Regions from separate parts of the Homo sapiens genome. Here regions 2, 3 and 4 are each linked to region 1. The links come from fine-mapping of genetic effects on gene expression. A gene starts in region 1. Each other region holds a variant in brackets. All regions are shown on one strand. Distances are from middle to middle.

Evidence for each region. PIP is the estimated chance that this variant, and not a neighbour inherited with it, causes the effect.
Region 2: its variant is fine-mapped to the expression of FCGBP in CD8 T cells (Kasela 2017, PIP 0.95).
Region 3: its variant is fine-mapped to the expression of FCGBP in whole blood (Lepik 2017, PIP 0.95).
Region 4: its variant is fine-mapped to the expression of FCGBP in whole blood (INTERVAL, PIP above 0.99).

What each region holds. Positions count from the first base shown.
Region 1 is chr19:39,931,921-39,937,066 of GRCh38, forward strand. FCGBP (Fc gamma binding protein) reads right to left here and starts at 2,714. Exons shown (of 36, transcript NM_003890.3): 1 at 2,644-2,714. The coding sequence starts at 2,698.
Region 2 is chr19:39,867,546-39,872,691 of GRCh38, forward strand. FCGBP (Fc gamma binding protein) reads right to left here. Exons shown (of 36, transcript NM_003890.3): 32 at 4,533-5,106; 33 at 2,671-2,870. Among named protein-coding and RNA genes, the nearest start is that of FBL, 24 kb to the left of the region's middle. RefSeq lists an enhancer at 1-83. The variant G/T (reference allele first, on the strand shown) is at 2,927.
Region 3 is chr19:39,896,385-39,901,530 of GRCh38, forward strand. FCGBP (Fc gamma binding protein) reads right to left here. Exons shown (of 36, transcript NM_003890.3): 18 at 3,172-3,313. Among named protein-coding and RNA genes, the nearest start is that of FCGBP, 36 kb to the right of the region's middle. The variant T/C (reference allele first, on the strand shown) is at 2,685.
Region 4 is chr19:39,888,272-39,893,417 of GRCh38, forward strand. It overlaps FCGBP (Fc gamma binding protein), which reads right to left. Exons shown (of 36, transcript NM_003890.3): 21 at 4,640-5,146; 22 at 3,372-3,915; 23 at 1,208-1,800. Among named protein-coding and RNA genes, the nearest start is that of FCGBP, 44 kb to the right of the region's middle. The variant G/A (reference allele first, on the strand shown) is at 3,146.

The DNA.
Region 1 (5,146 bases):
CAAAAATTAGCCAGGAATGGTGGCATGTACCTGTAATCCCAGCTACTCGGGAGGCTGAGGCACGAGAATCACTTGAACCTGGGAGGCGGAGGTTGCAGTGAGCCAAGATCGCGCCACTGTACTCCAGCCTGGGCAACAGAGTGAGACTCGGTCTCAAAAAAAAAAAAAAAAAAGGAATGAGATCCTGTCATTTGCAACAACATGGATGGAACTGGAGGACATGATGTTAAGTGAAATAAGCCAGTATAGAAAGACAAATTTCACATGTTCTCACTCATAGATGGGAATTTAAAATTTTTAACTGATGAACTCATAGAAATAGAGAGTAAAATGATGGTTACGATGATTACCACAGGCTGGAAAGTGTAGCGGGGACTGGGGGATAAGTAGATATGGTTAATGGGTACAAAAATACAGTTAAACAGTTAGATAAAATAGATAAAATCTAGTATTTGGTAGCAGAACAGGATGACTATTGTTGACGATAATTTATGGTATATTTTAAAATAACTGAGAGTGGAATTGGAATGTTCCTAACACAAAGAAATGACAAATGCTTGAAGTGAGGGATGCCCTAGTTACCCTGATTTTATCATTACACACTGTATGCCTGTATCAAAATATCACAGGTACCCCATAAATGCAAACCCATAAAAATTAAAAATTTTAAAAATATATAAACTAGTAAAAAAAAAAAAAGTGGATTGTTGGTACTAGCTTTCACCTGTTATAATGAAAGAATGTGAGCTTTTTTAAATTGTAAGACCTTCCTGTTTTTCTTTTTTTTTTTCTTCTGAGATGGAGTCTCGCTCTGTCACCCAGGCTGGAGTGCAGTGGCACGATCTCGGCTCACCACAACCTCTGCCTCTCAGGTTCGAGTGATTCTACCACCTCAGCCTCCCGAGTACTGGGACTACAGGTGTGCGCCACCAGGCACAGTTAACTTTTGTATTTTTTCTTTTTTTTCTTTTGAAATGGAGTCTCACTCTGTTACCCAGGCTGGAGTGCAGTGGCGCGATCCTGGGTCACTGCAACCTCTGCCTCCCGGTTTCCACGCCCAGCTAATTTCTGTATTTTTAGTAGAGATGGGGTTTCACCCTGTTGGCCAGGCTGGTCTCAAATTCCTGACCTCAGGTGATCCACCTGCCTCGGTCTCCCAAAGTGCTGGGATTACAGGCGTAAGCCACCACGCCTGGCCGTTCTTTCTGTTTTTAAAGAGAATGTGGCTATCTGAATTTTCATGTGAAATCTCCAACCCACAATTGTTTTAAGCACTTTGGGGCTCAAGGTGGATGTACTCTGCTGCCAGTGTATGATTTCCATCTTTTTACAAACTGGAGTGCAGTGGCTTAAACACAACACACTGCAGCCTCAACCTCCTGGGCTCAAGGGATCCTCCTGTCTCAGCTTCTGGTATAGCTGGGACCACAGGCACGCACTGTGTGCCTGGCTCATTTTTTAATTTTTTTCTAGAGGCAGGGTCTCACTTTGTTGCCCAAGCTGGTCTTGAACTCCTGGGCTCAAGTGATCCTCCTGCATCAGCCTCCCGAAGTGCTGGGATTACAGACGTGACCAACTGTACCCAGCTGGTTTTTGTCTTAATAGGACTTGTGGGGGCCAGGCGCGGTGGCTCTTGCCTGTAATCCCAGCACTTTGGGAAGCCAACGCGGGTGGATCACTTGAGGTCGGGAGTTCATGAGCAGACTGACCAACGTGGTGAAATTCCATCTCTACTAAAAATGCAAAATTAGCCGGACATGGTGGCATGGGGCGCCTGTAATCCCAGCTACTAGGGAGGCTGAGGCAGGAGAATCGCTTGAACCCAGGAGGTGGAGGTTGCAATTAGCTGAGATCACACCATTGCACTCCAGTCTAGGCAACAAGAGTGAAACTCCATCTCAAATAATAATAATAATAATAATAATAATAATAATAATAATGGGACTTGGGGGTTTGTGAAAAGGGGATAAAGAGAAGAAGGGGATTATGGAAGGGTGAATGAATTGTCTCCTAGAAATAGATGGCAGTGGGGGCTTCTGACCACCCCCAACTAGGAAGAGCGTCCCTGGGGCTGAGGAGAGAGAGGTCTAAGGAATCTTGAAGAGAGTGTGGGGGCTATGGAATGACCACCTTCCATATAAAGGGGGCTTTGAAGGATATCCCAGGGGGCCAGGGGATCAGGAACAATGGACATTTCAAAAGTAACCTAGATGGATGCTGACTGGTGACGAGAGGGTCCTCATATCCCATCCTCCCCCCAGTACTTTGGCTTTATCCAAAATTTTAGTTCTGGACACATCCCTGGGAGAAGTGGGGACAACACCCTCCAAGAATGACTTTCGTGAAATTTTCCATCAACTTAGCAGAATGAGGCTCAGAGTCAAAACCTTAGTTGAGTTGCAGAAAACCAAGAAAGTTCTTGCACACTTGAGTTTGGGGACTAAGGTTTTTGCCTGTGCTCCCATCCAGAAAAGGGTGAGAATTGGTGAATTCTACCACATCCCCCTGCAGAGCCTAAGGGCCTCTCTCCTGTCTCAGCTAGCCTGGGGTGACATGTGGAGGAGGCACACATGGAAGGCGTGGACCCACGCAGAGTTCCCCAGATTGGAACAAGGACATGGAGAGGGTCTTGGTCTGACTTACCCCACAGGAGGGTTGCTCCAGCCCAGAGTATCCACCAGCTCCATAGGGCACCCATGGCTGCAGTAGGAAAAGAGAAAGGATCATAGAAGGCTGATCCACCGCCTCTGCTGGAGACTGTCCTGGGCAGAAGGGCCCACTCTCATGACAAGGGCCACCTGGGACCATGAAGGCTGAGGTGGGGAAAGAAGTCGGGCAGATTGGGCCAGGGGGTATGGATCCAAGGACCAGTGTGTGTGTATAGGGGAGGCTGGCTGTCCAGCGGGTCTGGAGGTGGGTTGGGGAGGGCAGAAGCCAGGGACGGGGTGGAGAGTTGGCTGTCTTGTGGGTCTAGGGGTAGGATGAGGAGGCCTACAGTCAGGGGCAAGAGTAGGGGACCTGCTGTCCCACTTCCAAAGGGGACCCCAGCCCTTCTCACCTGCAGGTCCCTGGAGCTGCAGGGCCAGCCCTGTGGCAGGGCTATATAGTGGAGTTTCTGGGCCACACCCTGGGCCACGTGCCAGGCAGATGATGCCAACTTCCTGGAGGAGGCTGCCATCCTCATGGCCAGATGAAATGGGAAACTGTGAAGGCCTGGGAAGGAGGGACAGTGATTCTGGATGCCTGGGTTCCAAGAAGGGAGTGAGGACAGCTGGTGGCCATTCCCTGGAAGCCTTCTGGAGAGTTTGGTCCTGGAAGGGTGGGGTCCCTGAGGGAGACAGCTGGGGAGCAGGCAGATGAGCACCTGGGTCCCTGGGTGGAGGTGGGGTAGGGTGGGGGTGTGGGCAGTGAGGGTGGGAGGTGGCATGTGGTCATATTTGCTGGCTTAGTGGCTAGGTTCCTTCCTTTGGCTCCTGCCAGGAACAACAGTGAGGGACCCATATCCGGGTCCTGGTTCCTTCTCAGTCCCCACAGGCTGGGGAGTCCCTAGCCACCCACATCCTGCTTCCAGACACCACTAGGGGCAGGTGTCTGGGATGGGCAGGAGTCTGAGGCTATGGAGTGGGACACAAGACCTCCACCGCAGCCCAGTGGGGCGTCTGCGGTTTCTCATCTGCAAAATGGGAACACCAAAACCAGCCTCTCTGGGCATCTTTACGTCCCAGAGATGTAAAAAAATTCTCAAGGACTGTAGAGCTGGGGGGCAGCCTCCTCTGGTGTGGGCGCAGGCCAGGCTGCAGGTGGGCACTGGGACTGAGGCGGTGTGTGAAGAAGGGACAATGGCCTCTGTTTCCTGGTTCCACACAGACACCCAGATTCTACTTCTGATCCCAGACACCTGCTCCTCAGTGGTGCTGGAAACAGGATATAGGTGGCCAGGGACTCCCCAGCCTGTGAGGACTGAGGAAGAGCCAGGACCTGTTGGTTTTGGAGTTTTTTTGTGTGTAGGGAGGGTTTGCTCTTAGCAGGGGCTAGCTGAACAGGTTTAGGGGACTCTGTGCCTCTCCATCACCCCAGAATTTGCCTGAGATGGGAGGTGGAGGTCTAGGTTGCACACAAGGAGCAGAAGAATGAGCTGAAAGTTGGGCTTTCTCAGCTGGAGTCAGCTCCTCTGAGGGGCTGGCCTGACCCATGCCCTGCCTGCCTTCTCCCTGACTCAGGATCTCATTGTTTGCTGGGGGAGTCTCCCCTGGGACCAGCAGCTGCAAAGCCTGGGTGCTCTCTTGGACCAACACCCTAGCAGCTGCTGCCCCTGGGGCTCCTCCTCTCTTATCACAGCAGCCTGGGCCTCTGGGAGGCCAGAGCGGGTGGGGGGCTTCTCTCTCCCTGGAGCTCCAACCAATCCCCACGCCCACCCAAGAAACGTTCCTGGAGGGAAAGATAAAGGCTAAGAGTTGACTGGGACATAAAGTCAACCAGGAGAATGAGGTGAGTAAATAGGAGACTGGCTAAAAGCCAGAGATAACAAGAAACAAGCAGGGGCAGGGGACCCACAGGAAGTGGAAGCTTTGGGAAAAGGATGCCTGGGTCCCTGAGGGGTCTAAAAGTTGGTGGAAGGGGCTGCTGGGTCCCTGAGACAGAGAAGGACTCGGAGGAGGAGACGTCGGGATTCCTAGGAGGAAACAGCAATTGCAAACCAAGATGTGAAAATTCTCTGTCTGAGGCCAGGCGCAGTGGCTCAGCTTATAATTCCAGCATTTTGGGAGGCTGAGGCAGGAGGATTGCTTAAGGCCATGAGTTTGAGACCAGCCTGGTTCAAGACCAACATAGTGAGACCCTGTATCTACAAAAAAATACAAAAATTAGCCAGGCACGGTGGTGCACGCTTGTAGTCCCAGCTACTTGGGAGGCTGAGGCAGGAGGATCACTTGAGGCCACAAGGTCAAGACCAGCCTGGGCAACATAGTGAGACCCTTTCTCTACAAAAAATATAAAAATAAACCGAGTGTGGTGGCATGCACCTGTAGTCTCCACCATTCAGGAGGCTAAGGTGGGAGGATTGCTTGATCCTAGGAGTCTGAGGCTGCAGCGAGCCGTGATCATGCCACTGCATTCTGGCCTGGGGAGAAAAAGAAAAAAGAAAATA
Region 2 (5,146 bases), 64 kb before region 1:
CAGAGGATAGCAGAAGAACCACCCAGCCAAGTCCAGCCTAAACTGCAGTCACAAAATTGCAAACTAAATGAATAATTGTTTTAAGCCACAACGTTTTGGAGTGATCTGTAACCCAGCAAAAGCTAACTGATACAGGTAAGAAATGAAGAAATGTAATTAACAAAATAAATGCCATCTCTACAATGATGATTTCCACATCTCTAGGCCAGACCTCTCCCATGAAGGCCAGACTCACAAATCCAAGACTTCGGGCATAGGCAGAGGGGTCAGGGCAGAGATGGGGAAGCATAGGGAGCTGAGGGGTTCAGAGGAGGCACCTAACCCAGCCTAGGGGATCAAGGATGGCTTCCAGTAGGCAGTGAGACCTCAAGGAAAGAGCAAAATTTGGCTCCATTTGCAAGCAATGCAAGTTAGTGCTGCATGTTAATGGCTAGCCTCGGGCTGACTTCTCTATGTCACAATTTCTTCATCTGTAAAATGGGGAAAATAGTCATAGTATCTATTGCATAGGATTGTTGTGATTATTAAATGAATTAACATCCAGAACATGGCCGGGAGAGGTGGCTCATCCCTGTAATCCCAGCACTTTAGGAGGCCAAGGCAGGAGGATTGCTTGAGCCCAGGAGTTTGAGACCAGCCTGGACAACATAGCGAGATCCCATTTCTACATAAAAATTAAATAGTCAGCCAGGGATGGCAGTGTGAGCCTGTGGTCCCAGCTACTCAGGAAGCTGAGACAGAAAGATCGCTTGAGCCCAGGAGTTTGAGGCTGTAGTAAGCCGTGATCATGCCACCGCACTCCTGCCTGAAAGACAGAGTGCAATCCTATCTCAATAAATAAATAAATAAATAATAACACCCATAACAAACATGGTGCATAGTAAGAGCTCAAAAAAATTATTAACAAGAATAAATCAATTCTTCAATTTAATTCATATTATTAAACAATTATTAGCTGGGCTACCTATTTGCACTGTTGTAAACTGCTATTTCTTTTTTTTTCTTTTTGACATGGAGTCTCGGTCTGTTGCTCATGCTACAGTGCTGTGGCACAATCTCGGCTCGCTGCAACTTCCACTTCCCGGGTTCACGGGATTCTCCTTCCTCAGCCTCCCGAGTAGCTAGGACTACAGGTGTCCACCACCACACCCAGCTAATTTTTGTATTTTTAGTAGAGACGGGGTTTCACCATATTGGCCAGGCTGGTCTCGAACTCCTGACCTTTTGATCCGCCCGCCTTGGCCTCCTAAAGTGCTGGGATTACAGGTGTGAGCCACTGCGCCCCGCTGTAAACTGCTCTTTCTTTTTACTGAGTGTGATGAACATGCAGGGCAAGGCCCAGTGCTCAGTGGGTATCTTTCCTGTATAATCGGGCCTGATCCTCAGATACCTATGGTACAAAGATGGTGATTAGTCCCATTTTACAGGTGAAGAAAATGCAGTTCAAGGAGGGGCCAAATGATGCCCCCGCCCCAAGATATCAGGTCCTAATCCCTGTAATGAGTAAATGTCACCTTATATGGGAAAAGTGTGTTTGCAGATGTGATTGAATTAAGGATCTGAAGATGGAAAATTTCTCCTGGATTATCTGAGTGAGCCTTAGATGCAATCACGTGTATCCTTATAAGAGAGAAGCAGAGGGAGGTGTTATGACACACTCAGAAGAGGAGGCAGAGGTTGGTGTGATGTGGCCACAACCAAGGAAAACCTGCAGCAACCAGCAACTGGAAGAGGCAACAAACAGATTTTCCCCTAGATTTCTTTTTTCTTTTCTTTTCTTTTCTTTTTTTTTTTTTTTTGACATGGAGTCTCGGTCTGTCACCCAGGCTGGAGTGTAGTGGCGCAATCTCGGCTCACTGCCACCTCCGCCTCCTGGGTTCAAGTGATTCTCCTGCCTCAGCCTCCTGAGTAGCTGGGATTACATGCACGCACCACCATGCCCGGCTAATTTTTGTATTTTTAGTAGAGACAGGGTTTCACCATGTTGGTCAGGCTGGTCTTGAACTTCTGACCTCGTGATCCGCCCGCCTCAGTCTCCCAAAGTGCTGGGATTACAGGTGTGAGCCACCGTGCCTGGCTCTTTTCCTTTTTTCTTTAGAGGTAAGGTCTTGCTCTGTCACCCAGGCTGGAGTGCGGCAGCGTGATCATAGCTCACTGCAGCCTCCAACTCCTGGGGTCACGCCATTGTCCCACCTCAGCCTCTTGAGTAGCTGGGACTATAGGTGTGCACCACCATGCCCAGCTAATTAAAAAAACAATTGTATGTTGCCCAAGCTGGTTTTGAATTCCTGGGCTCAAGTGATCCTCCCGCCTTGGCCTCCCAAAGGGCTGGGACTGCAAGTATGAGCCACTGGGCATGGCCTCCCCTAGATTTCTCTGGAGGGAGTGCCACCTTGCCAACACCTTGATGTCAGCCCAGTATTCCTGATTTCTGACTTTTGGCCTTCAGAACTGTGGGAGAATGAATTTCTCCTGTTTAAGCTACCATGTCTGCGGTAATTGGTTACAGAAGCTGCAGGAGACTAATAGGGGGAGGTTGCCTGCATCAAGTCACATAGCTGGGATATGGCGGTACCTCCTCTGTCCCCAGCCTTGAAGAGGTCAGCACAGAATCTCTGGGTCTCTCTCAAGCTCTTCTACCCTCTCTGCCCACCCCAAGCCCCTACTCACCGGCAAGTATCGGCCATTATGGGTGCAGCCACAATCTTGGACAGGGATGCAGACACCCTGGGAAAGCAGGAAGCGGTCGTCGCACTCACAGCCCTCAAAACAGCGGGTGGTGCAGCCCGTGAGGCCGGAGAGAGCCGCACAGGATCCCTGGCAGGTGCGAGTGCAGATGGAGTAGTGGCTGTGGGCGGGGCAATGGAGCGCTGCAGAGAGAGGAGGCAGGGCTGAGTCACACCTCCAAAGGGTCCTGGATAACCAA[G/T]GGGGCCTACTGCACACCCAGCCCTGTTTTAGGCGGTGCTGAGGACACAAATACTGAGAAAAGTCTCAACCCCAGTCCTACAGAGCTCACTTCCAGTGGGACAGACAGGAAGAGCCCAAAGTGAACATGCTGCATCAGGGAGTGTAGACAGAGAGGTCAGGGTCAGGGTGGGGAGGCACAGGCAGAGGGGTCAGGGCAGGCATGAGGGGGCAAAGGCAGAGGGGTCAGGGCCAGGGTAGGGGGCTACAGACAGAAGGGTCAGGGCTGGGATGGGGAGGGCACAGACAGAGGGTTGAGGGCCAGGGTAGGGGGCACAGGCAGAGGGGTCAGGACCAGGGTCGGGGGCACAGGCAAAGAGGTCGGGGCCAGAGTGGGGGCACACAGGCAGAGGGGTCAGCGCCAGGATGGGGAGGGCACAAACAGAGGGTTGAGGGCTGGGGTTGGGGGCACAAGCAAAGGGGTCAGGGCTGGGGTGGGGGGGCAAAGGCAGAGGGGTCAGGGCCGGGATGGGGAGGGTACACACAGAGGGTTGAGGGCCGGGGTAGGGGGCACAGGCAGAGGGGTCAGGGCTGGGTAGGGGGCACAGGCAGAGGGGTCAGGGCCAGGGTGTGGGGGGCACAGGCAAAGGGGTCAGGGCTGGGATAGGGGGGCACAGGCAGAGGGGTCAGAGTTGGGACAGGGGCTATATGGACCCAAGGGAATTATCTGTGGTAAGTCCCTGGTCTCTGGCTAAGCAATTGGTGGAGGTGTGGCTGTTCTGCAATGCCCACCAGGTTTGGGGAAGGAGCATCAGGCTGGGGGTGAAATGCTGATTTTATTTGGGAACACAGCAGGTAAGAGGGACGGTAAGGACACCCAGGGGAAGGTGTCTTGGACACCCTAACAATTACCACAGACTTTGTAGCTTAAACAGGGGAAATTCATTCTCCCACAGTTCTGAAGGCCAGAAGTCAGAAATCAGGATCACTGGGCTGACAGTCAGGAGAGAGTTCAGGGCTTGAGACAGACAGACCAGGTCCATGGTCAACAATGAGAACAAATCTAAGGCCGCGGGTGTGGATGACCGCCCTGGGTATAGGTCCTGCCCAGGGGAGACCTGGCTCTGACCTGGAGCCGAAGGGGCCATTGCTTTTTCCTGAGAGTCTCTGGTGATGTCCCTCCCATGGGGAATTGAATGAGAGGTACAGTCCTAGTTTAGCGGGGTGTTTAATAGCCTGCAGCCTTGTCTTGGGGGGATCTGAGGGGATATGGTCTTGTCGGGGGTAGAAGGAGGGTCTGTGTGAGCCACAGATCTCCCAACCCATCCAACTCTCCCTTTCAGGTCACTGCAGAAAGAGTCCAGAATAGAACACTAGGGAAGAAGAGAATTTGAGGTTTGAGCAGAGTGGGCCCAGACAGGAGGCTGAGAAGGAACAGTCAGAGGGATAGCAGGGAAGCCAGTGGACTATGCCGTGGGAGAAGAAGTTGTGTGGGTGTGGGGTGGGAGGGGGTGGGGAGGGAGCGCTTTTACAGGGAGAAACCACTCCGACATGCAAATAGAAGGAATGGGCCAGGAGGGGCCCCTACACCTGGTCTAGAGTCCTGCGAGGGACCCACGGACACTCACGGCAGAAGCTGTCTGTCCTCCAGGGCTTCACGGCCACGCCAGCTGCCTGACAGGCCGCCGTGTAGGCTGCCAGGCTGCGGCACAGGAAGGCTTTGTCACCCTTTTGCGCGCACAGGTCGTATACGCATTGGCGGAAGTACTCAGAGGGACTCAGCACCGCCTGGCAGGTCGCGAAGGGGCCCTGGGGGTTCCGGAGCTGCCCGCAGGCCTCGTTGCTCTCATAGGGTGCAGTCTCCTCTGCCAAGCACACTGGGCAGCCTTGGGGCCCGCAGCCCTCGCCACAGCCCTTGGAGGAGCCGGGCGCCCGCCATGCAGCCCCGAAGGTCTCCACACTGGACGCTGCTGAGCCATTGGGCAGGACAAAGTCGTCACTCCAGTTGCCATTGAAGTTCCCACAGAGGCCACAGAGCCGTCCACGGAAGGGGCTGGGGATGGACATGAGGAGGTGGGCATCGCCATCAAAGAGAAGCCGCAGCCCCTTGGTCGTCTGCAGAACCATGTTTCGGCCCTCGGCGGTCACCCGCACGCGGCCCACAGCCACAGGCAGGGCCACAGCCTCGCCGTCCACGGTGACCTGGGTGGAAGGGTCGGGTAGGTCAGGAACTCACAGAACC
Region 3 (5,146 bases), 36 kb before region 1:
TCGGCTCACTGCAACCTCTGCCTCCTGGGCTCCAGTGATTCTCCTGACTCAGCCTCCTGAGTGGCTGGGATTATAGGTGCCCACCAGCATGCTTGGCTGATTTTTGTATTTTTAGTAGAGACAGGGTTTCACCATGTTGGCCAGGCTGGTCTCGGGCTCCTGACATCAAGTGATCAGCCAACCTTGGCCTCCCAGAGTGTTGGGATTACAGGCATGAGCCATCATGCCCAGCCTGCTATTTTCAAGACCAGCCCCTGGGAGTCCCACACAGCTGACACTGAGGCCCCATGGGGGACTGTGTCTAAGTCTCGGCTGTCAAAGGTCCCATACCTGAGACCTGGGCCCCAGAGGTCTGTACAGCCAAGACCCAGTACCTAGAGTTCCCCTACTTCTGAGACTGAGGCCCTGCCATTTGCTGTGTGAGACTGAGATCCTGGAGTCCACGCACCTAAGACCAAGGTAAAGACCAAGGCTCTGGGTCTGTGTTTAAGGTGCACTTTCCATGGTGCCCTTGCTTGAGATTTCACCCTGTTCTTGTATTTTAAGTTTTATAGGAACCTCACCGTCTTCACTTACATAGGCTACGGCTGCTTTCACACCACAGTGGCAGAGTGAGTAGTTGTGATCCAGAAGGTATAGCCTGCAAGCTTAAACACTTACCATCTAGCCCTTTAGAGAAAAGGTGCACTTGACCCCAGTTGAGATCTGTGCCCCAGGGGTCCTTGTGTCTGCGATGCCAGCCCTGAGAGCATCCATGTCTGAGATCCCAGCCCCAGGGTTCTCTGTGTTCAAGACCTGGGCCCCAGGCCAGGTGTGGTGGCTCAGGCCTGTAATCCCAGCACTTTAAGAGGCTGAGGTGGGAGGATAGCTTGAGCCCTGGAGTTTGAGACTAGCCTGGGCAACATAGTAAGACCCCATTTCTACAGAAAGATTAATAAATTAGCCAGGCGTGGTGGTGTGTGCCTGTAGTCCCCCACTACTCGGGAGGCTGAGGCGGGAGGATTGTTTGAGCCCAGGAAATCGAGGCTGCAGTAAGCTACACTACACTCTAGCCTGGGCCACAGAGTGAGACCTTAGCTCAAAAAAAAAAAAAAGATCTAGGTCTCAGGGTCCCCCATGCCTGAGACCTCAGCCCCCTGGACATCTCCACATTTGATAGAAATTGGTCTCCAATTTCTCTAGGTCCTGGAGGCCTCTGTGCCCAAGACTAGGGCCCTGGGGTGATCTTCTGGCAAGAGCCCAGTGCCAGGGTCTCAGCAGGATTTGAAATGTTTGAGACCCTAACTAGCTAAGTCTCATGGGCTGGGCTCCCTCAGTGCAAGACTCCATCCCTGAGGGTTGCTGTATTCAAGACAGTAGCCTTGATCGTGTCTCACTGCTGAGGCCCTGTCCTGGGGGGTTTCTGTGTCCGAGACCCTGTTCGTACAGTTACTACATCTGTGACCCCAGCTTGCGGAACCCCTGTGTGGGAGAGGCCAGCCTTCAAACGTCTCCTTCCTCCTGTGTCCATTATCTATGTACCGCCTCTCAGCTTCAAATACACCCACGGAGTTAAGCTTTGTCAACAGAGGGCGCCGGAGAGTCACTGCAGGAGGGACGGTCTCCTGGTCTGGCTTCTAGCCAGTTTGGTCCTTCCAGCTCTGGCCAGGGTGCGGGGCCACATTCAGCGAGTGCCACTGGCCGCAGCTGGCTTCCCAGTGAGGGGTTCCCTTCTTGCCAAGTCCAGCCTGCAGAAACCTCTGTGCCACCCAGTGGGCTACAGCTGCAGTGAGACTGGACTCAGCCTTGGGGCTGATTCTCCCCTCCTTGAAGAGTAGGGGCCAATTTCTCCCTTCCATGAGGCTTTTACCTTAGCCCTAGAGTGGCGGCTACTTCCTGTGTGTGCTTTGGTGGTATTCTTTAGTGCTCTCTTTACCGTTTCTTATTTCTGTTTATTTGTTTGTTTGTAAAGAGACAAGGTCTTGCTGTCTTGCCCACGCTAGAGAGCAGTGGTGCAATCATATAGCTCACTGCAGCCTCGAAATCCTGGGGTCAACTGATCCTCCTACCTCAGCATCCTAAATAGCTGGGACCACGGGCACGCATCACCACACCTGGCTAATTTTCAATTTTTTGTGGAGACAGGGGTCTCGCTATGTTGCCCAGGCTGGTCTCAAACTCCTGGCCTCAAGTGATCCTCCCAAAGTTCTGGGTGTGTGAGCCACGGCACCAGACCCTCTTTACCCTTAATAGTTAATCTCCTATTAATAAGTAAGTGATTCTTTAATTAAACTTTCCTCATTCAAATGGCCATACGCTTTCTGTCTCTCGACTAGATGCTGAGTGATATACCCCCCATTTCTGGGAGTCCCCATTATCCTGCTCATCAGCCCTGAGAGTCTTAGCCCCCACTCCTTGGTGCTGGAGCTCCCATTCTCTTATCCTTAGGGGGAGGAGAGTTCTCTGCTCTTCACCCTAAGAAATGAGCCCTGGGGGTGGCTGTGTCCCAGATTTAGTCTGGGGGATTCCCACATCAGAGACTATACCCCCAGAAATCCTGATCTTCCAGTTAAGAGGGGTCCCCATATCCAATGTCCTGCCTTGGTGAGGTCTCCGTGCGTGAGACTCAGAACTCTGCTCTCTGTCCCTGCCCCTGGGATCCCAGTCTCTCCCCTGCCCTTTGGTGCTAGTGTCTGAACCCCAAG[T/C]CCAATCCCACACATCAGTGTTCCGCTCATGATGGCCCCCTAGGCTGCTGCTCTTGTATTCTAAAGTCTTATAGGAGCCTGACCTCTTCACTTACATAGTCTACGGCTGCTTTCATGCCACAGTGGCAGAGTGAGTAGCTGGAACGAGAACCTACAGCCTGCGAGCTTAAACATTTACCATGTAGCACATTAGAGCAAAGGCGCGCCTGTCCCTGCCTTATACCGAGGGTCTCTGACATCCACCCTGAGAAAACTATCTCTGAGGGTCCCCACAGCCTGGATTTTCCCTAAGGGTCCCTACCTCCCAAAGTAGGTGGCCCTGGCCCTGTGAAACCTGGTCTAGGGTTCCCCAGGTCTGCAACCTCAATCATTAGTCCTGTACACCTCCCGCCATGGACACCCCAGTTACACTACCCTCAGCCCCAGAGTCCCCATCCTCCATCCCTAGTCCCATCAGCCCCAGTCCCAGCCCAGCCCAGCCCAGCACCTTTGGTGACGCAGCTCAGGATGCCTCCGGAGGGCTGGCACACCTGCCCCGGCTTGCAGCTGTGTTCCTGGCACACCACGACTTTACCCGCATGGCACGTGCACTGCTGCCGACAGTTGTCAATGAGGACTGTCTGCTCCGGCTGTGGGGAGAGAGGGAACGGCCATCAGGGACACCACGGGTGGGAGCCGACTCTCACATCTCTGGCGTTCTGGCACAGAGGGGTTTGGCAGACATCACAGACAAGGGACATCTCTCAGCAGGATGGCCCCTTGTCTGTGAAGCTGAGGCACAGCATGGCTTTGGGGCCATCATTCATTGGTTCATTCACTTTTCTTCATTTACTCATTCATTCCAAAATATCCACTCAACGTCTGCTGTAGGAGAAATGGTGTGACACAGTAACTAAGGGCAGATCGCCTGGGCTTGAAGCCCGTTTCTGCTGTTTCCAAAGTGTGTGACTCTGGGCAGTTACTTCACCTCTTTATGGCTCAGTTTCATGATCTGCAGATTGCAGATGATAGTAGCGCCTGCCTTTGGAAATATAACTGAGTTATATTCAGATAATAACCAAGTTATATTCAGATAATAACCAAGTTATATTCAGACATGTAAAATTCAGATAAAATGAAAAGGGTAGGCCGGGCGCGGTGGCACATGCTTGTAATCCCAGCACTTTGGGAAGCCGAGGCGGGTGGATCACGAGGTCAGAAGATTGAGACCATCCTGGCTAACACGGTGAAACCCCGTCTCTACTAAAAATACAAAAAATTAGTCGGGCGTGGTGGCGGGCGCCTATAGTCCCAGCTACTCGGGAGGCTGAGGCAGGAGAATGGTGTGAACTCGGGAGGCGGAGCTTGCAGTGAGGCAAAACTGCGCCACTGCACTCCAGCCTGAGTGACAGAGCGAGACCCCATCTCAAGGAAAAAAAAAAACAAAAACAGAAAAGGGTTTCCTTTAAAACATTCAGATAGGAGAGATACGTGGGGTAGACATCAAACAAGATCGGGAGAATATGGCTTATTTTTGAAGCTAAGTGATGGGTAAGTACATGGACAGTCATTCCACTATTCTCTTAATTTTTGCATGTTTGAACGTTTTCAGAATAAAAAGTTTTTAGATATGTAATGCATATATAAAAATATGCACACATAGCACTTAAAACGGTACCAGATACATAGTAAGCACTATCTACACATTTTCTGTTATTATTAATATTATTTATGTGAGGAGAACAACAGAGAGAGGGTTCCACCCCTAGGAGAGCTCACAGTCCCCAAGGGAGATGGACATTAGACAAACACATGCTCCAGTCAAAGAAAAAGGACCTACGGGGACAGAGTGGGAGAGGGAAGTAGAGGGTGTTAGCAGCTGGTATAACACATGGAAATCTTGTCTTTGTGGTCAGAAAGGCTCCCTTCGTCCAGACCTGGAAGGCAAAGCCACAACTTGACCTGGGGAGTCAGGGGAGGGTTTAAAGCTTCAGAGCCCGTGGTCATATTTAGAAAGATCTTTACCACTGCCACGTGGAGGGTGGACCAGAGGGAGCAGAGGTAGGAGCTGGGAGGGACCCAGGTAGGAGAGGACCAGCTGGACCAAGGGAGGGCCATGGGGACAGGGAAAGGAGTGGGTACAAGAGACACTGAAGAGACTGAGTGGACTAGCTGTGGTGGCTCCCGCCTGTAATGCTCGCACTTTGGGAGGCCAAGGCAGGAGGATCACTTGAAGTCAGGAGTTCGAGAGCAGCCTGGCCAATATGGCAAAACTCCACCTCTACCAAAATACAAAAAAATTAACCGTGTGTGGTGGCACGTGCCTGTACTCCTAGCTACTCGGGAGGCCGAGACAAGAGAATTGCTTCAACCTGGGATGCTGAGGTTGCAGTGAGCTTGAACCCGAGAGGCGGAGGTTGCACTCCAGCCTGGGCAACAGAGCAAGACTATATCTTTAAAAAAAAAAAAAAAAAGAGGCTCAG
Region 4 (5,146 bases), 44 kb before region 1:
ACTCCTGTGTATTTAGGCGCTGTATGTCAGGGGCTATTCTAGGAGCTTGGGAAACATTAGGGAATATATTCAATTAAGTCCTGCATGTCGGCCGGGCACAGTGGCTCATGCCTCTATTCCCAGCACTTTGGGAGGCTGAGGCCGGCAGATCACTGAGCTCAGGAGTTGGAGACCAGACTGGCCAACATGGTGAAACCCGTCCCCACTAAAAATACAAAAATTTCCTGGGCATAGTGTTGCACACCTGTAATCCCAGCTACTCTGGAGGCTGAGGCAGGAGAATCACTTGAACCAGGGAGGCAGAGGTTGCAGTGAGCCGAGATCGCGCCACTGCACTCCAGCCTGGGTGACAAAGCCAGACTCTGTGCCAAAAAAAAAAAAAAAAAAGTCACGCCTGTCCAGTTCGCCAGATTAAGTCAGTAATTGATCAGCACCTTCGCCAATACTGCCACTAGAAAAACAGCTGCGTGTCTGTTTCAGTGGGATCTCAGGGGAAACCCCTCCACTGTAACTCAGATGCCAGTCTCCACATGAGACCAAATCTTCTCAGTAAGAAAAGCACTGCAGAGCAGCACGGGGTTCAAGCTCCACCTTTGCTGGGGGACTATGGGCCAGTGATGGGCCATCCCACTCTGAAAAATAAAGCAAGTCATAGTGCCTGCAGTCCCTGTTGCAAGCATACAGACACCATGGACGTGAAGTGCCTGGCAGCCAAAAGGTGTGCAGTCAGCTGTATAGAAACTATAGCTGCTGTTGTTGTTGTTAAGGCGGTGAGAGTGTCACCCACAGATTGTCCTCTGTCCATGAAGCTTCTCAAACTCGGACTTTCTCAACCTCTGATGGCACCACGTCCTGCCAATAAGTGGCAGACTAGGGAGGTGAGTAGGGCAGAATCCAGGACTGAGGTGGAGAGAGGATGGAGTGGGAGGGAGGAGAGGGTGGGAGAAATTTGGAGAGAAAAGTCAATGCATGGAGGTAAAGAGAGGGTGGAGACTGAGGGACAGAGATGGGGGAGCAGCTCCCAAGTCCCTGATGACACCTCCCTCATTGGCTTCCCACTCGGTTCTGACTGGCATCTTCTGTCCTCAGAGACCCCAGGCCTCGCACATGCACTCTCATCTCTTGTGCCCCCAACTCCTGGGCTGAGCGCTGCCTGTGCCCCACCTACCCACAGGCCCCTCGCCCCCTGCTCCCCATCTGCTCTCACCGTGACCTTCCACTGTCTCTGCTCCAGCCGCAGGGTGAAGTTTGCCACCTGGACCGTGATCACCCTGGTCACACTGACTCGCCCATTACCCCAGGCCACGTTCTCCTGCAGGACGGCAAACCGATGCAGGCCAGGCCGGGTGCCGCAGGTCTGAGCCAGCACATACACGCAGGTGCCCATGAAGTCGAAGCGGTGGCCATCGAAGGTGGTGTAGTGGGGATCTCCCGACGCCTGGCAGGTGGTAGAGCCCACGGCCACGCAGCCCAAGCTGCCACCGGATGGCCGGCAGGTCTCATGCGGGCCGCAGCTGGAGGGCTCACAGGACACCTCACCGCCCTCCCGGCAGCGGCAAAGGGAATCACACCCAGGGCCAGGGTAGAAGGTCTGGCCCAGTGGGTAGTAGCGGTCATCGTGGAGGCAGCCACACTGGCCCACAGGTACACACGTGTCACCACTGAGCACGAAGCCAGCATCGCAGACACAGCCTTCACGGCAGGCCGACTCACAGCCCTCGGGTGCCGACAGGCTCGGGCAGCTCCCAGGACAGGAGTCACCGCAGAGCTCGTAGTGGCTGTGGGCAGGGCACTGGAAGGCTGTGGGGACAAGGTGGGCATCAGCCAGGTAGGTGTTTGAGTCGCAGTCTTGGGAGGCCCTGAGTGGGAAAACTGCTCAGGCCAACTTGGGCGTCTCTGGGCATGCACATGTGATCCAGGACATCTAACTGGGGGACTCAGCGTGGGACCTGGAATGGGAGGGGACATGCCCAGGTCTCTCTGACCAAATATTTCTGAAGATCAAATGACTCTGCTTGGCTGATATTTTTTTTTTTTTTTTTTTTGAGACAGGCTCTCACTCTATCTCACCCAGGCTGGAGTGCAGAGGCGCAATCACAGCTCGCTGCAGCCTCCACCTAAACCTCAAGCAATCCTCTGGCCTCAGCCTCCCGATTAGCTGGGACTACAGGAGTAAGCCACCACATCTGGCTGATTTATTATTATTTTCTGTAGAGATGGGGTCTCACTATGTAAGCCAGGCTTACCTGGGTGAAATGGATCACTTATATCTATTCGGGGTATGCAGGATCAGAACTGACTATGGGCATCTCAGCGTGTGAATGTGACTGGGGTGTGGGGCCACATGTATCTCAGGGTATGGCTCTGCCTGAGGGCACCCAGCTGTGGGTGTCTGACATGCAGCATCTCCCAGAGTCCTTCTGACATGGTCTGCCTAAGGCTGTGCCTGGGTGAAGTTGGCAGGATACCTGTGACCAGGAGACCTGCCTGAAGGGAACCGCCTAGGACTATCTAACTATGCATCTGTGTGGATCTGCCCAAGGCTATGCCAGGATCCTGTTTCTTTCTGAGTGTATCTGACCAGTCAGTATAAAATTTAAGCAGATATCACTGAAGGTATGCGACTAATTCCATGTGACTAGGTGTATTTCAGTGTGTGCAACAGACCTGGGCCCTCTGACCAGCTGAAACTCACTAGGTCTTCCTAACAAGGGGTACTTTGCTATGTGACAGAGGCAGGGTCAGCCATCCCAATCTACATGCCTTGGATACCTGAAAGCATGGATCACCAATCCCTAAGAGTGTCCTGGACCCCAGGTTTCTTTTCTTTCTTTTTTTTTTTCTGTTGTTTGTTGTTTGTTTGTTTTTTGTTTTGGAGATGGAATCTCTGTCACCCAGGCTGAAGGGCAGTGGCACGATCTCGGCTCACTGCAACCTCTGCCTCCTGGGTTCAAGTGATTCTCCTGCCTCAGCCTCCTGAGTAGCTGAGATTACAGGTGCCCGCCACCACGCCCGGATAATTTTTGTAGTTTTAGTAGAGGTGGGGTTTCACCATGTTGGCCGGGCTAGTCTCGACCTCCTGACCTCAGGTGATCCGCCCGCCTCGGCCTCCCAAATTGCTGGGATTACAGGCGTGAGCCACCGC[G/A]CCCACACTCTGACTAGGTGTTTCTAACTGACTCTCTCTCACTGCAGTACCTGACTTGGGGCATTTCAGTGTGTCAGTGCCAAGGTGTTTCCTGACAGTAGATACCGAGCTCGGGAAGGAAAGTGGCCCCTGAGCCCCATGGAGGAGGAAGGGGCTGCTGTCCTACAGTCCTGGGAAGGGCAGGGAGAGACCCAACCATGTGGACCATGCATGGAGCAGTACTCACGACAGAAGTCCGGCCGCCTCCACTCGCGGAGCTGGGCCCCAGCGGCCTGACAGGCTGCCACGTAGGTGGCCACTGCAGGACAGAGGCCTCCAGGATGGCCCTGAACTTGGCAGGCGTCCAGCAAGCAGCCCTGGAAGTACTGCGCGGGCGGCACAAGGCCGTGGCAGGGCGCCAGCGGGCCGTCGGTGGCGGAGATCACGCCGCAGGCGTCCGGGCCGCCGAAGGACTCTTGCTGCTCTGGGGTGCACGGCGACGGGCATGGCTTGGACACACATTCCCCGCAGCCCTGGGCGCCGCCCACCTGCCATCCGGCGGGCTTCCCGCCCACCGCCTTCAGGTCGTCTGCGGGGTCCTGGTTGTAGTTCCCGCATAAGCCACAGAGAGAGCCCGCGTACGCCGCCGGCACGCGCAGGCGCACGAAGCTGTCCCCATCGAAAGCCAGCGAGAGCCCTGAGGTTGTGGTCACCACCACGTCGGCGCCGCTCAGGTGTGCGTGCAGGAGCGAGTCCAGCTGGAAGGGCAGAGTGACGAACACGCCGTCCACCTGTGGGCAGTGGGGGAGCGGTGAACGGAGCAAACACGGGTTTGAATCCTGGCCCCACTACCTACTAGCTGTGGGACCCAGAGCATGTCACCTCCCGCTGAAAATAATAATGAGCATCTATAGGCCGGGCCTGGTGGCAAAGCCTGCAATCCCAGGACTTTGGAAGGCCGAGATGGGAGGATCGCTTGACGCCAGAAGTTCAGATCAGCCTGGGCAACATAGTGAGACCCCCATCTCTACAAAAAAATGAAAAATTAGCCAGCGTGGTGGCGTGTGCCTTTAGTCACAGATACTTGGGAGGTGGAGGCCAAGGCGGGAGGATCGATTCAGCCCACGAGTTCCAGGCTGCAGTGAGCCCTAATCCTGTCACTGCGCTCCAGCCTGGGCAACAGAGTCAGGCTAAGAAAAGAAAGAAAGAAAGAAAGAAAAGCAAGAAAGAAAAAAAGAAAAGAAAAACAAAGAGCCTCTACTGGCTCATGTCACTGACTCCTTATCCTTCTCGAAAACAGGTACTTTTCCTAGACCAGTTTACAGAGGAATACACTAGGCTCACAGAGGAAGAAGCTGCTGTGCCAAGCCATCAGGCTCCTAGGCGTACACTCTGACCCTTCCATCATGCCCCAGCTAAGCTGTGAAAGGGGCCCAGGGGAATGGTGAAGCCCTTACCATCTCAGGCAACCCCAGAGCTGGCACTTGCTCCTGTCTGGCCCACAGCCCTCCTCACCTGTAGCTTCCGGGGCCAGCGGGCACTCAGTGTCAGGCTGTGGTTGTAGATTTGCAGGGTGACACTGCGGGTGTAGCTGACAGCCTGGCTGCCCCGGTGCTCATTGGCTACAGTGACAGTGAAGTTCTCAGCCCCCAAGGGTGGTCCGTGGCAGGGTGCACTCAGCAGGTACTCGCAGGTGCCTTGGAAATCGAATCGGTGCCCATCCAGAGTGACGTAATGGGGGTCACCCCACGCCTGGCACTCAGCTGTGCTGACGGGCTGGCAGCCGTGCTGGCCGGATGGCAGGAGGCCACACACTTCACCCAGCCCACAGCTGGCAGGTGTGCAGACCAGCGAGCCACCCCCAGGCCCGCAGCGACACCACTGGGAGCAGGTGCCATCAGCCCAAAACTCACTGCCCGCCTCGTGGTAGGTGCCATTGGCCCAGCAGCCGCAGCCGTTGTTGAGGGGAACACAGCGGTCAGCACTTAACACGAAACCCGCGTCGCACTGGCAGCCCTCCAC